Homo sapiens: one gene and its partners. The protein of the gene in region 1 interacts with the protein of each later gene in a pairwise test. Each region holds a gene or a part of one and is shown in the gene's direction. Other genes may lie near its edges.

Region 1 (3,500 bases):
TGCTCTATTGCATAAAAATGGTCTCCCTGGGTTGTGTGCAGGAGCCAGCCTCATTTATTTTAAGCTGTAAACTATAAGTGGCTTTAACACCATGTCTCTCACAGTATGTTCATGCTGCAATCAAAGCGGCTCTGGGTGGGTTGGAGGCTAGAGTTGCATCTCCTGCTTGTTTGAGCCCTGCTGACAAGATAGCACAAGGCGGAGACCAGGCCCACGGGGAGTTGGCTGCTAGAACGTGTCTCCTGCAGTTTCCTTCACCCTGAAGCTTCCTTTTGCAGTTGCCTCCTCTCTGTCCGCCAATTTCTTCTCTGGCCTGGAGAGATCCTGCCTGTAGGAGGCTTGTCTTTCTGGGTTGGAATTGACCTAGACCCAGAGCTGGGCTGTAGTGTAAACTTTCGCCGGTAGGTGGTGCATGAAGATGCCCTCCTGCCCTGTGCTCCCCGAGCTCAGATCTCTGACACCTTCTCTGGCATCTCCATGTACCAGTGCCACACACTGCGGCCTCTTCTGGTGACCTTATCACCCCCTATCTTGATTGTTTTTCCCTGTAGACTGTGAGCCTTGTGGGTGAGGGAGTGCTAGACGTCCTTCCTTCTGTATTTCCAGCATGTGACACAGTGCTGGGCATGTGGATGTTCAGGAATTGTTGGATGAGTAAAAGAATGAATGAACGAATGAATGAATGCATGAATGAGAGAAGAGGGATGGAAGGAGACAAAGGGCCTTATCCTCCAGCATGAAGGTTCGTTAAGTTTGAGGTACACATTCTGTGAAATGAATCAGGCTTCCAGTAAAAAGATGAGTTTCCTTATAACCAGGGCTATCTCTTCACGATGGCCCCGACCCTGACTATCCCTGTTCTGGAAATGCGGTGATCCCAACGGGCGTCTAGGATGCTGGTAACATACTCCCAGCATGAGAAGGTGGGAAGGTCTCATTCATTGTTGTCTGTAACCGGCAGTTCAGAGGCCACCAGCTCGGGGAGTCCCGTCCGTTGCTTTTGAAATTGTCACAGCATTTCTTCCTTCCCTATCTTTCAGAGTGAAACATCTTTCAACCTAATATCAGAAAAATGTGACATTCTATCCATTCTTCGGGACCATCCTGAAAACAGGATTTACCGGAGGAAAATCGAGGTGAGGCAGAGGGCAGGGAGAAGAGCATCCGAAACTAAACAGGCTGGAGTTGGGAGTGTAATGGTGATGCCTCTTTGAAGGCCGATAGTTTGGGCCAGGTTCCTGGGCAAATGAAAGGATTCCTAGGATATTTTGATGTTGGACATTTGCCTTAGCGATAAATCCTTTCATTCCAAAAAAAAAAAAAGGATTTTTTTTTGTTGAAAAGTTTAGCACTATCCTAATGTTTTATTTACTCACCAATACTTCATTACAACTCTGTGAGGTAAGTACTTTTATTACCCCCATTTTACAGCTGAGGAAACTGAGGCACACAAATTAAGTGGTGGCCATTTAGTTCATGAGTGGCCAAGCTAGGATTTAAACCCAGGCAGCTGAGTCTCAAGCCACATTCATAACTGCTGTGCTGGGAGACCTCTTGGAGGGAAAGTTTACGCCAGTGAGGCTAAAGGGATTTGTGGGAAGGCTGCAGGGATCGCTCATGGAGCACTCACCCGTGGATGGCAGGAGGAGCTGGGTGCCCACTCTGTCCCTCTGGTAGGAGGCCCTGGCCGCTCTCTGCACTCTGCAGGTCTTCCTCTCGCTGCAGGACAGGCTTGCTCTGGCACTGGCCCCACAGGCCCTTCCCTTCAAGTTCCTCTCAGACACGCAGCACCGTTGCTGGGCCTCATTACTTATCCTCAGAGACTCTGATAGGTCCAGCTTGGGTCAGATGTCCATCAGCAGCCAGGGGTAGTGGTGTGGGCATCATGTGATCCGAACGCCGCTGCGGGGCACTTCCAGGGAAGGAGCTGGGCTCTGCAGCCCACTGACTTTTGTGTCCCCCAGAGCCCTCCTGGGAGATGAGCCAGGGGCTCCAGAGAGTGCCTGCCTCCCCACTGCCAGCTGGCCTCAGGTGGGCCCAAGTCGGCTCTGAGCCTTCTCATGGCTATGGGGGGAACAGGAACTCCAAGACCCCTTGAAAACCATCCTCTGCTGTCAAAATGCTGCTTATAGTCCCATGAGGCAGGAAAGGGGATTCCAGGCCAGTTCAGAGGGACACCTACTTACTGCTAGGAGTGGAGCTGGAGCCCACCCCTCCCGCCCCTGCTCACACATGCAACCCCCTACCCCCTACTTCTGCCAGCTCCCGATTCTCAGTGCTGCTCCCCCAGGAAGGCTTCCCCAACTTCCAAAATCCAGTGCAATGCCAGTGCCCCGTGGCACCCAGCCAGGCACTCCTGTCCCCTCACAATGCCACTGTCTAATTATCCATCTTCCCTCCCGGACCGTAGGCTGCCTGGGGGCAGGGACGGACACACAGGACAATGCAGTGTATTTTTATATCAGGGGAATGAACGAGGGTGGGAGGCTGAGGGGATAGCAGCCTGAAGGGAGGGAGCAGACATTTCCTGGGAGAGATGGGGGGCACCTGGCCAGTCCCAGTGCCCAAACCACACAGAGCCGTTGTTGGTGCAAATGCCCACATTTCTTTCTGTCCCCCTCAGGAACTCAGCAAAAGGTTCACCGCCATCCGCAAGACCAAAGGGGATGGGAACTGCTTCTACAGGGCCTTGGGCTATTCCTACCTGGAGTCCCTGCTGGGGAAGAGCAGGGAGATCTTCAAGTGAGTGCCGGGGCCCCTTGGCCTGTCAGGGCTGTGTTCTCTGTGCTAGGTCAGCCTCAAGTCTCTCGGAGGTTTTCGTTACACTCAGGCTGGTTAACCCAGAGAATGAGCTGAAGAGCTGCCTGGCAGAGGCGTTTGATGTTGGGGGTGCCCAGCTGCCTGCTGTGGTGAAGTTGGGGGCAGCCAAGGGGTGGAGGATGGAATCTGTGACCTCCCAGATGCTTTCCAGCCTCTGCTTCCACCACAGGCCTGGGTCAGCCCAGGTGAGTCGCAGGGAGCAGGTACTTCGTGACCCACTCTGAAAAGAAAAGAAAAGACAAACAAAAAGAAGCTTTGCCCCGGTGTTCTGCATAATTCCTGTTGACCTTGGTGTGGAGTGTGTGTGACCCAGGCATTCAGCTGGCTGGGCCTGTCCCTGAGGTTCATGCTGGAGAAGGTCTGTGTCCAGAGCTGCCCCTGTCATCTCGGCTAGTTCAGGGCTTCTCATATCTGAAGTTTGTACAAGGCGCCTGGTTCTCTAGTCCATAGCAAGAAAAAAAAAAGCAAAGACAAACAAACCCCTGAGACCTGGCTTGGACCCGAATTCCTGTCCAGTGGGAGCAGGGCAGAGCAGGGACTGCTTTTGTCACTGGCTCCCAGGAGATGCTGATGCTGCTGGGCCTCAAACCACGCTTTGAGGAGCAAGGAGCTAAGAGACCCACCTGGCTCTTAACCTTTGGGGGTCTCAGAGCCCTTAGAGGCTTTGGTGAGGGCCATGG
Region 2 (3,416 bases), on another chromosome or scaffold:
ATCAAGAGTTACTTGAAAAAGAGGACTTTTTTTCTGGATTATGAAGAAAATGGAACAGATTTTTCAGGGACTGGTGATCCACACTTGGATGATATTAATGATGAGTTGGACCCAGAGATCCAGAGATAGAGGAAGCTTATGAAAAGTTTTGTTTGGAATCAGAGCGTAAGCGAAAACAGTCAAGTTAAATTTCAGTATATCATGTTTATAAAGCAGTTTAGTTATGGTGATTTAGCAGAATACAAAGCCAGAAAATGTGTCACACTTATACCAAATTAAGGATGTTGAGTTATATTACTAATGTATGCAACTTTAATTTTGTTTAACGCTATCTGCCAAAATAAATTTTATTCCCTCTGACTTAAAAAACAAAACAAAACAGTGATGCTGTTTTTTTTTTTTTCCCTTGTCCCCACAGTGAGCGTCACCCTGGACCCACAGTCGGCCAGTGGGTACCTGCAGCTGTCAGAGGACTGGAAGTGCGTGACCTACACCAGCCTGTACAAGAGTGCCTACCTGCACCCCCAGCAGTTTGACTGTGAGCCTGGGGTGCTAGGCAGCAAGGGCTTCACCTGGGGCAAGGTCTACTGGGAAGTGGAAGTGGAGAGGGAGGGCTGGTCTGAGGATGAAGAAGAGGGGGATGAGGAGGAAGAGGGAGAAGAGGAGGAGGAGGAAGAGGAGGCCGGCTATGGGGATGGATATGACGACTGGGAAACGGACGAAGATGAGGAATCGTTGGGCGATGAAGAGGAAGAAGAGGAGGAGGAAGAGGAGGAAGTTCTGGAAAGCTGCATGGTGGGGGTGGCTAGAGACTCTGTGAAGAGGAAGGGAGACCTCTCCCTGCGGCCAGAGGATGGCGTGTGGGCGCTGCGCCTCTCCTCCTCCGGCATCTGGGCCAACACCAGCCCCGAGGCTGAGCTTTTCCCAGCACTGCGGCCCCGGAGAGTGGGCATCGCCCTGGATTATGAAGGGGGCACCGTGACTTTCACCAACGCAGAGTCACAGGAACTCATCTACACCTTCACTGCCACCTTCACCCGGCGCCTGGTCCCCTTCCTGTGGCTCAAGTGGCCAGGAACACGCCTCCTGCTAAGACCCTGAGCCCTGACATCTGCCCCCAGCCCCAACCCTCAGATGCTTCACTTCTTTGGAATTCCAGGACTCTCAATGGGGGGACGGGATGCCTGGCCTAAGCACCTGGAGCAGGGGACCCCATATCCACTGGTAGCCACCTCCCCATTGCTGTGGCCCCCTGAAATCTCACTCAGTGCTGTTGCTCCATCTACTGCCCTAATGGGGCTCTTTTCCCACCTCCTGCTGGTTTCCCGAGGGAACTTCTGACCCTGGAGTCCATGAGGGCTCCTTTCCTTTTTGACCACGACCTTGGCCCCAGCTCTGCACTCTCTGGAATAAGGGCCCGATGCAGCATTTTCTTGCCCAGTGTGGCAAGACCTCAGAAAAACCAGTCAATTACGCCTAAGATCATTTTGCTGTCCTTAAACCCCCCAGGTTCCTTCTTGCACAAATCCACTCTGCTGCCCACCTTCCCTGGCATTTTAAACAGACCTACCCCACCCCAACTCAGAGTTAAGCATACATGGCAATGCTGAAAATAAACAAAATCCACTGAGGCTTCCCAGGCCATTTAAAGCCTGGAGTACCAGCGCATATCATCTCATGGGGTCCAGAGTGGAGTCCAGGCTTCTCTGAAACCAGGGCTGAGCATATTTCCATAGCCAAGGAGGTGGGACTCCCTGGAGCTATCTGTGGTCTTAGGGAAGGATCCAGACATACACGGCTTTGGGGTACAAGCTGTGATCACTGATCAATAAATTATCTCTAGATTGGTCCTTGTGAGGGGAGTTTTAAGAATCCAGAACATCTTGCTCTTGATCAGCACATCCAAAAACACCAAGACAAACATCCAGTGGAGCAGAACCTCTCCTGCCTCGGGAGTTCTGACCGGGTTCCCCAGCAGGGTGTTAAGCCTCTGTCTCTGGCCCTACCAGCATCCAGGTTCCACTTTCCTAGGAGAGAGTGGAGATGGGAAGACAGGGAAAGGAAGGCAGCAGGAGGCCACAAGCCCACCAGGTCTTCATGTCAAGAGAGGGAGTAACATGTCTTCTCATTGCCCACGGACCCAACCTCTGTCCAGGTGCCCCTCATCATCACAGTTTAACACAAGCTCCCCTGCTCCAGCCAAATTGATCTCCCAGTCTTGTCCTTACCCATTCCAAGTGCTCTGCCAGCCCCTGTTCATCCAAGTTTTAAGTCCTCCACCCTGTTCTAAGAGACTGTTCCAACGGCTCTGGGCCTCAGTGGTCACTTGACCACCATTGTCTCAGAGCTGCCCACTTTGTGTGTGTCACATGCTGCCTGAGTCACATGTACATCTTATTTCTGCCTCTAGTTTTGTAAGCTCCTGGAGGGCGGATAACATCTTATACTACTCTTGTATTCTCATGGCACCTAGTGCAGTGCTGGGCACAGAGTAGGTGCTCAATAAAGACTTGTTGAATGAACAGCCTGGAGATCTGTATTTGTAGGTCTATATCTATATTATATCTCAAATGCCACCAGACCTCAGTCTGGCTACAGAGAAATTCCACTGATAGCAGTAGCCGAAGGTTTTCCTTCTGTGCCTTCTGTAACAGTGTAACTTTGCTTTCTGTTCTCTGCACACATGCTGTCATTTCTGGAAGTCCCTCAAAAAGAGCCTACTGCGGAACACAGACGAGTTGTTGCGTGGCTCCACCTTTTTATTCCTCCTGCAGTGGTGCCCTTGAGCTGAGGTCCAGCGTTTTGGAGCAAGTGATGACTCTCCCTGAGAAGGGAGACCTCCAGTATAGCACACCCAAAAATTCTTCCTTGGAAAATAAGCACTGCCTCAGAGGAAATAGAATGTGCAGAGATTCAGCCTTGCATCCTAACACAGTCAACTGTTTTTCTTGTCCTTTCTGATTTTTTTTTTTTTTTTTTTTTTTTTTTTTTTTTTTTTTTTTTTTTTTGAGATGGAGTCTCACTCTGTCTCCCAGTTTGGAGTGCAGTGGCGCCATCTCGGCTCACTGCAAGCTCTGCCTCCCGGGTTCACGCCATTCTCCTGCCTCAGCCTCCCGAGTAGCTGGAACTACAGGCGCCCGCCATCACGCCCGGCTAATTTTTTTGTATTTTTAGTAGAGACGGGGTTTCACCATGTTAGCCAGGTTGGTCTTGATCTCCTGACCTCATGATCCACCCACCTCGGCCTCCCAAAGTGCTGGGATTACAGGCGTGAGCCATCGCGCCCAGCAGTCCTTTCTGATTTTTTAAATTGCCATCTTAAAGATGGAAAAGGGAGGATTATACGAAACTACCTGTAAAATTACGCTAGTGGCAAAGAGCATATTTCCTCTCTGTTCTCTAAGTTGTGGGCTCAT
Region 3 (4,190 bases), on another chromosome or scaffold:
AGCTTGCCCGGCGGCTGAGTCAGGGGCGGCACTGCTGCTGCTGAGACACCTGGGCTGGCTGTCGGGAAGCTCCTGCCTGCCTCTGACGCAGGGGGGACTGGCTGCCATGGGCTGTGTGCCTGCCCACGAGGGCTTCTCCCAGGCAGCTGGGCCGTTCCGGGCCTCCTTTGCTGTCCTGGGCTCTGGGATCAGGCTGAGGCCCCGCGCAGCTGGGTCATTCTCTGCTGGGCAGCCTTGGCCTCAGTCTCCTCACCTGCCAAGTGGGTTTAGTGATGCGATTCGCTCCCCGTGGCATCTGGTGGGCACGTGTGTGCAGAGTGGCCGGCACCTGGCCGCTCTCCTGGTGACTCGTGAGGGTGTCCTGAGCGGGGAGCCACACTTGCGGTCGGGGGCTCAGGCGACGACGGCACAGGGGCAGCAGTTGCCCCCATGAAAGGCTGTGATGAGGCCGAGCGCGGTGGCTCACGCCTGTGGTCCCATCGCTTTGGGAGGCTGAGGTGGACGGATCACCTGAGGTCAGGAGTTCGAGACCAGCCTGGCTAACATGGTAAAACCCCATCCCTACTAAAAATACAAAAGATTGGCCAGGCGTGGTGGCAGGCACCTGTAGTCCCAGTGACTTAGGAGGCTGAGGCGGGAGAATTGCTTGAACCTGGAAGGCGGAGGTTGCAGTGAGCCGAGATTGTGCCACTGCAGTCCAGCCTGGGTGACAGAGCAAGACTCCTTCCAAAAAAAAAAAAAAAAGGCGATGACGAGGGTGTCTGGGTGTCTGAGCAGCAAAGGGAGCGTCAGCCAGAGTGGGGCGTGTGGCGGCAGGAACCAGACAGGCCAGCTGGAGCTCAGGCCACAGGCGGCTGCGCAGACCCAGACTCGAGCCTGCTGAGGAGGCACTGACTGGAGCTGTGACTGTAGGGTGTGGGCGAGAGCTGCTGAGGGCACTGAGCCCCCAGGAACCAGGCGGGCGCAGGGAGGTGGCCCTGCGTGCCGTCCTTGCCCCTGACCTCCCCGTCTCTGGGTGGTTCCTAGGGTGGTTCCAGCTCTGCCTGCCGACCCCCCACCCCCGAACGCCTGCAACCTCCGCAGTGTCCCCAAGTGGCGGTGAGAGGACGGTGGGGGTGCTGGGCCCTGCCGCCCACGGTGGCGGGGAAGAGCCGGCGTGGGCGGGGAGCCACCAGGAAGTGAGGGCTGCTACGGCCAGTGTCACTGATGGGGCCAGGCGGGAAGTCTCCCCAGCTGCCCCCCGGCCCACCCTGTCTTCTCCTGGTCCCTGCGGCGGCCTGGCCCGAGTCTTCAGAAGACGGCCTGGGTCTGTCTCTGGCCGCTGCTTGCTCTGTGTGTCTGCGGTTGTGCCAGATACCGTGACAGTGACAGCCTGCCCCTGCCTCTCAAGCGTCCGGCCAGCACCCTGGAGCGGCTCTGCACAGCTGGGTTCTCCGGAACGGGCTCCCTGCAGCACCCTGTGAACATGGAGCCTGGCGTTGTGATCGGGCACCAGCAATACCCCGGGAACCTGTGGATGTCGGCTGCCCTCTCTGGCCGGCTGGCGCTGGGGTCTGCCTCGGGCAGATGCCGGTGCTGAATTTCCTCCCACTTAGAACTCTGCCACCATGAGGACCTTCCTCTGAGCCTCGGGCGAGCCGTAGCACCCCTGGCACTGGCACGGATGGGCACCTGTGGGGTTCCAGTCCCTAGTGGTGGTGCCTGAAGCCACCTGGGAAGAAGAAGGCAGAGTTCGGGGCCTGGGCCGAGGCACGCCCTGGGGTGTGAGGCGGGGCCCCAGCCTGGGCTGAGGCAGTGGCTTCGCTCACGCCTCGTCCATCCAGCTTGTCTTGGGAGTGTGTGGTGCGTGGGGCCCAGGGACAGACGGTGTGAATGTGGGATGTGGTGGCAGCTGCTGAGGGCGGGAAGAAAGGGGTGCAGGCGCCGCACGTGCCCGTGCCTCTGGGGCTGCGGGGCCCACACACTGTGGATCAGCCGGGAAGCTTTGGGCACCCTTTAGGAAAACAGTAGCCAGCACGGGGGCTCCTACCGAGGCCGAGCACTGCACCATGACTCTCCCTGGGGTCTCCTGATGTGCACAGCTTCCCGAGGGCCCTGCCACCCACAGGGGCCGAGTCACTGTCACCAGGGGCCTGCCTGCCCTGGTCACTGTCAGTCATCTGGGGCCTGTAGGTCGCCAGCCCACTCCCCTCCATGCGCCTGGCCCTGGGCCCTCAGGACATGCGCCCCGTGCAGGCCCCGTGGATGAAGGGGCCTCTGCTGCCCTGCCAGGTCCCACCCGGGGATGAGGCCATCACGCTGCAGGGGTGCATGGGTGGAGCCCGGCACTGGCAGGGTCCCCCCTACCCTGGCTGCCTGGCCAGCTGTTGCTATGGTGATGATGCCGGGTGATCGTACCTCCTGCATCTGTTCTCTGACGGAGAGGTGAATGGATTCACCGTCTTCTGCTAGGGCCAGAGGCTCCAATGGGGCCTCTGTGGGGGCCCCCAGTGCGTGCTGCCCCCGGAGAAGGTGGGGCAGCTCCTTCACCAGGCCCCCTTGCCCAGGCGTTTCTACCTGCAGCTGCCCCGATTTAATACGAGACCAAGCGGTCTCTTGGCTGTGCCCTTGGAGGAGGAGGGCGGCTGGAGACCCCCAGGTCCAGCCCCTCCCACCGTCGGCCAGCAGAGGCTCAACCTCCACCCTGGATATCCGGGATCCACCTGTCACTTGCCTTCGTGACCAGAGCCTCGGTTCCGGCCTTCGGTGGCCCTGGAGGGGCTGGCCGGGGGCCTGAGAGACAGCCCAGAGCCCTGACAATACGCAGGAGTTGGGTCGCAGCCCTTGGCGTCCTCGATGGCACCCGGATTTCAGATATGAGTGAGTGTCCAGGCTGTCCTCTGTGACAGGGCAGAGGCTTGGAGCAGAGAGGTGACCTTTGAAACCCCTAGGGTGGGCGTTCCAGCAGCAGGGCCGACGTGCACAGGCCCCGACGCTGGAGTGGGTGCTGCAGAGAGAGGGTTCTGGACAGTGCTGTGGCACCAGGCCCCACGGCCGCTGCGGGCAGGACAGCGGGGGCCAAGAGGAGGCCAGGGCTGGGGCAGATGAGTGTGTATGTGGCCAGGTCGGGCTGTCGTGAGCCGGCAGTGCGGGTGGCGGGAGCATGCGTTGTGCCCTGGACTGAGACGGGAACCCGGGAGCCCGACAGAAAGCCAGTGATGCACAGAGGGGCTGAGCTCGGCACATGGGGACCAGAGCGGCCGAGCGCTGTGCCAGGCCACGTGGGCGTGTGCAGGGCCTCGTGCTTGTCCAGGAGAGATTCGGGGCTGGGGCTGGCAAGCCAGGGTCCTCAGAGGGAGACAGCTTCTCCCTCAGGCCCTTCTGGGGCTGCCTGACCTTGTGGATGCACCCAGCAGGAGAGATGGTGGTCGGGGCAGCTGCACAGCTGACTTACGTCCTGCCCTCAGTGGGGGCCAGTGCAGCTGTTCCAGGTCCACTGGGTGGTGCTAGCCTGGGGAGTCACCATGCAGGGAGAGCCTGAGCCCTGAGCTACCCCTCCATTCCCAGAGACCCACCCAGGCGATGGAGCGGCCCTGGGCTCCCGGTCAGCTGGCGGGCGGACGGCGGCAACCCCTGAGCCCAGAGGAGCCCCGATAGACCCGACACCGGCAGAAACCAGGGGTTCAGATTTGACTGTGAAGTCTCAGCGTGTTTACGTGGGGCGTCCCAATCCCGACACCCCAAACACACCCCAAGAACCGACGCCTGGGGAGAGTTGTCACGGCCACTGTGGCAGAGCCACACTGCTCCCACACTAAGCTCAGGGCCACAGTGGTGGTCGTTGGCTGCTTCCCCTTCCCCTTTCCCTTTTTCTTTTTCTTTTTCTGACACGGTCTCACTCTGTGGCCCAGGCTGGAGTGCAGTGGTATGATCTCGGCTCACTGCAACCTCTGCCTGCCGGGTTTAAGCGATTCTCGTGCCTCAGCTCCTGAGTAGCTGGGATTACAGGCACCCACCACCGTGCCCAGCTAATTTTTGTATTTTTAGTAGAGACGGTATTTCCCTATGTTGGCTGGTCTCGAACTCCTAACCTCAAGTGATCTGCCCACTTTGGCCTCCCAAAGTGCTAGGATTACAGGTGTGAGCCACTGTGCCCAGCCCTTTTTTTCTTTGTTTCTTTCTTTTTTTTGTTTTTGTTTTTGAGATGCTGC
Region 4 (4,190 bases), on another chromosome or scaffold:
ACCATTCTCAACTTTGTGTTTGAATTCTTGGCCTTTTCAAAAAATGCCCATTAAACTTTCATGATTTTGCCACCATCATTAAAAGTAGCCTCCTCTTAGTTTAAATGGATTGTATTCTTCTGGCTTTTTAAAGCAAAATTTTAAAGATATTTATTGTTTATTCTTAGTTGGAAATAGGAAGTTTTTTCCCCAGTGACTTATCCCTTTGGAAATTTTTTAAATTATATGTTTGATACCTCATTGGAACATAAACAATACAATATATTAACACTTCTATTCTGACCTACTGTGTAATTGTTAGAAAGAGGTATAAAATTAATATATTGACCTTTATATTCTGCACAGACCACTCGCTACCTCATTCGAAGGCCGACATGGCAGTGTGCGCTATTGGGTGAAAGCCGAATTGCACAGGCCTTGGCTACTACCAGTAAAATTAAAGAAGGAATTTACAGTCTTTGAGCATATAGATATCAACACTCCTTCATTACTGGTAAGAATTGACTGAATTATTTATTCTTTGTTTTTGGCATATAAATATTAAAGAATAATCAATCACCTAAACTATGCAGTTGTCATAATTTAAAAATACTGGTTTTCTTTTAAAATTTCATAAATATACATTTTCTTAAATACAGTCAAGAACACTGAAATTAATGAAAAATATGCTCATATTTTTGACATTGTAGTATACCTTTAAGTAAATATAAAACTAAGACCAGTATATGATATGAAGTATCTCTTACTCAGAGTATGACAGCCATAACAAAAAACAGATCTGGTCCTTGGATGATTTGAGTGGAAGAAGAGCAGTAGTATCTTTTATTATAATACAATATCACTTACTTGACAATATCATAATCTAAAATTTGTACTATACTTTGTTATTCCAATAGAGGGATAGTTGTCAAATAATGGGGAATCATTAGTTTCATTAAAAAACTCCTTTTTTAAAGAAATCTATTTTTAATTGCATTTGTCTGAAAATAATTCAAATTTGACTTAAAACTTTATTTGATTTAAACAAATGGTAACATCTTTAAAGCACATAAGAAATGGGCATTTTCCTTTTTTACATATTGATTTTTTAATAGTCTCAGAGAAAGATGTTAACATTTGGAATTATAATCAGATTGCTTTCTTTGCTGCCTTTTTAAGGCAGTTTAAATGGAATGTGGAAAGGGTTTTTTTTATTTGGTTGGTTTTTGATTACTATATTTGTAAATAGTGTGAGCTAAAAAACTATGTTTATGGGATAGGCTGTAAACCCTTTACCTTTTTTTTCTAATTGAATGGAAATTTATATGAAAATAAAAGTAATGGTATAATTCAAAACCATCGGTTAGTTAAAAAATAAGAAGTATGTCTGGATACAAAAAAAAAGCAAAACCAGTTGTAATTTTTAATTTTCCATAAATTTAGGGTTATATTTTAAAATATTCTGGTATTGATTGTACCAATCCATACACTGACCTTTTTCTCTTAATTTTTTTCTTACAGTCACCCCAAGCAGGCACAAAAGAAAAGACACTCTGTTGCTGGTTCTGTACCTCAGGCCCAATATCCTTAAGTGCCAAAATTGAAAGGAAGGGCTATACCCCAGGTATGTAAGAGGTAGATTCCCACAAAAAACTTTTCTTCACTTAGCTTTTGTGTTTAAATTTATAATATGACTACTAAATATAAACATAATATAGTATTCTTTTGTGAAATAACAAATTGTGCTTATCCATTTGTTTTTTTCACAAAGTAGAATGTAGTTTCCTTTTTCAAATAGCTACTGATTAGTTCATTTCTATGACTCAAGTTATTTGCAGTTCCTGGGACATCTTTTCATGTATGTTAGTTGCACTTTCTTACTTTAGCTTTAAGAATCTTGACTTCTTTTGTTGTTTTTTTCTAACAGTAGATATGTATATATTTTTCCCTCTCTAGGTGAATCAATTCAGATATTTGCTGAGATTGAGAACTGCTCTTCCCGAATGGTGGTGCCAAAGGCAGCCATTTACCAAACACAGGCCTTCTATGCCAAAGGGAAAATGAAGGAAGTAAAACAGCTTGTGGCTAACTTGCGTGGGGAATCCTTATCATCTGGAAAGACAGAGACGTGGAATGGCAAGTTGCTGAAAATTCCACCAGTTTCTCCCTCTATCCTCGACTGTAGTATAATCCGCGTGGAATATTCACTAATGGTATGTACACATTTAAGAGGTTTTTTCCTTTCTTTTTTCTTTTTTGAAACACCTGTCACCCAGGCTGGAATGCAGTGGCACAGTCTCAGCTCCGCTACAGCCTCTGCTTTCTGGGCTCCAGTGATCCTCCCACCTCAGCTCCCAAGTAGTTGGGACTACAGGTGTGCCTATAGCCATGCCTGGATAATTTTTGTATTTTTTGTAGTGATGGAGTTTGACCATGTCGCCCAGGTTGGTCTTGAACTCCTGGGCTCAAGTGATCCATCCACCATGGCCTCCCAAAATGTTGGAATTATAGGCATGAGCCACAGTGCCTGGCCCAAGAGGTTTTTGGTGTTTTTTTTTGTTTTGTTTTTAAGTCTTAAAGTTATGACATAGTTTTGTCTTACATCCAGGATTTGATTTTTTTAAATTCCATATATAGTGACATATAAAATACATAACTCTTTATATAGTTTGACTTACAATTATACCTTATATGTAAATGTACTATACAGAATTATACATAAAAGAGAAACTTTTCATGTATGTAAGTTTAAAAATGAAGTAAATGGGGGTTTCAAATAACATTAAAATTGGTTATGAGTTTTTGAAAAGGAAATCATACTTGGCATTCTAAACTTAATATTTCTTTGCAATGTTTAGGTATATGTGGATATTCCTGGAGCTATGGATTTATTTCTTAATTTGCCACTTGTCATCGGTACCATTCCTCTACATCCATTTGGTAGCAGAACCTCAAGTGTAAGCAGTCAGTGTAGCATGAATATGAACTGGCTCAGTTTATCACTTCCTGAAAGACCTGAAGGTAATTTGATAATACACGTCTAAGCTTAATCTCTTACTACTATTATCAAGAAAATTATTTTGCCTCTGATATTTTATGACCCTAGATGAACATAATCTTTTCCTAAAGAAAGTAGATGTGCCCCTAATATTCAGTTTTGATTATATGTCTTCATAGTTTTGATCACCAAACAATAATTATTTTACCTTGACGTTGCTTTTTAATACCTACTATTCTGTGTATTTTGACATGCATAAGAACATGCTGTTCGAATTGCGTGTATCTTTTTCCTTCAGCACCACCCAGCTATGCAGAAGTGGTAACAGAGGAACAAAGGCGGAACAATCTTGCACCAGTGAGTGCTTGTGATGACTTTGAGAGAGCCCTTCAAGGACCACTGTTTGCATATATCCAGGAGTTTCGATTCTTGCCTCCACCTCTTTATTCAGAGGTAAGTACCTACTCCTTAAGTATGAAATGAACTGGCTATCTTGGGAAATAGCATTGCAGGCATTTTTTTTTCTTAATGTTATTAGATCTTGATTATCATGTTAACAGAACAAATAATTTAAAACAACAGATTAAAAGTTAATATTAGGTTCATCAATATTTACTAAGTTTGATGCAGAGGTAGGACTGTTCACTTATTAGGGAATTAAGATAATGATCTAACCTCATGTTGAATTACTAATTTTTTTTTCTCTTAAACTTTTATCTTGAGACACATTTTTTGAAGGAAGAATTTTGTATATCCAAGCATCAATAGGAAGAACTAGCATTTTGCAAACACTGATTAAATAGTAGAATTTATCTTATTCATGATGCTTTTCCAATTGCATATTTTGACATTCTCAGTCATAAGAAATAATGTATTTGTGATAACATCTTAAAACAACATTCCCACATGGTTAGACTATTTTCGTTCATCTCATATTGATGGCAGCTAAGCACTTAAATGTAAATAAAACATGGCCCTTAGGAGAAACCCACAGATTACTGAGGAAAACAAGCTAAGAAGCAAAATATTATGTAATAATGTGATAAAATGCACAGCTCATTTGAGAAGCAGCTTATTAGGTCTTGGGCATCAGGTGGGGCTTCTTGAAAAGGTGACTATTAAGCTGAATTTTGAAGAATGAGTAGTCCTCAAAAGGCAGGAAGAACAGTGTATGTAAAGACAAGGAGTGAGTAGGTGGGGTGTCCAGTAATTT

The links. The genes of interacting proteins can lie anywhere in the genome.
Region 2: the proteins of OTUB2 (region 1) and TRIM26 interact in a two-hybrid assay, tested with the Homo sapiens proteins (one large-scale study listed by BioGRID).
Region 3: the proteins of OTUB2 (region 1) and RNF126 interact in a two-hybrid assay, tested with the Homo sapiens proteins (one large-scale study listed by BioGRID).
Region 4: the proteins of OTUB2 (region 1) and ARRDC3 interact in binary tests that used the Homo sapiens proteins (3 or more experiments, as listed by UniProt).

The regions. Positions count from the first base shown.
Region 1 is NC_000014.9:94,036,340-94,039,839, forward strand, and holds part of OTUB2 (ubiquitin thioesterase OTUB2), read left to right. Parts: intron 1-1,040; coding exon 1,041-1,136; intron 1,137-2,623; coding exon 2,624-2,742; intron 2,743-3,500. UniProt on the Homo sapiens protein: Hydrolase that can remove conjugated ubiquitin from proteins in vitro and may therefore play an important regulatory role at the level of protein turnover by preventing degradation.
Region 2 is NC_000006.12:30,183,561-30,186,976, reverse strand, and holds the end of TRIM26 (tripartite motif-containing protein 26), read left to right. Parts: intron 1-418; coding exon 419-1,101; 3' UTR 1,102-2,522; downstream 2,523-3,416.
Region 3 is NC_000019.10:656,321-660,510, reverse strand, and holds part of RNF126 (E3 ubiquitin-protein ligase RNF126), read left to right. Parts: intron 1-4,190. UniProt on the Homo sapiens protein: E3 ubiquitin-protein ligase that mediates ubiquitination oF target proteins. Depending on the associated E2 ligase, mediates 'Lys-27'-, 'Lys-29'-, 'Lys-48'- and/or 'Lys-63'-linked polyubiquitination of substrates.
Region 4 is NC_000005.10:91,372,924-91,377,113, reverse strand, and holds part of ARRDC3 (arrestin domain-containing protein 3), read left to right. Parts: intron 1-345; coding exon 346-493; intron 494-1,500; coding exon 1,501-1,603; intron 1,604-1,935; coding exon 1,936-2,192; intron 2,193-2,837; coding exon 2,838-3,000; intron 3,001-3,237; exon of another isoform or gene 3,238-3,275; coding exon 3,276-3,430; intron 3,431-4,190. UniProt on the Homo sapiens protein: Adapter protein that plays a role in regulating cell-surface expression of adrenergic receptors and probably also other G protein-coupled receptors.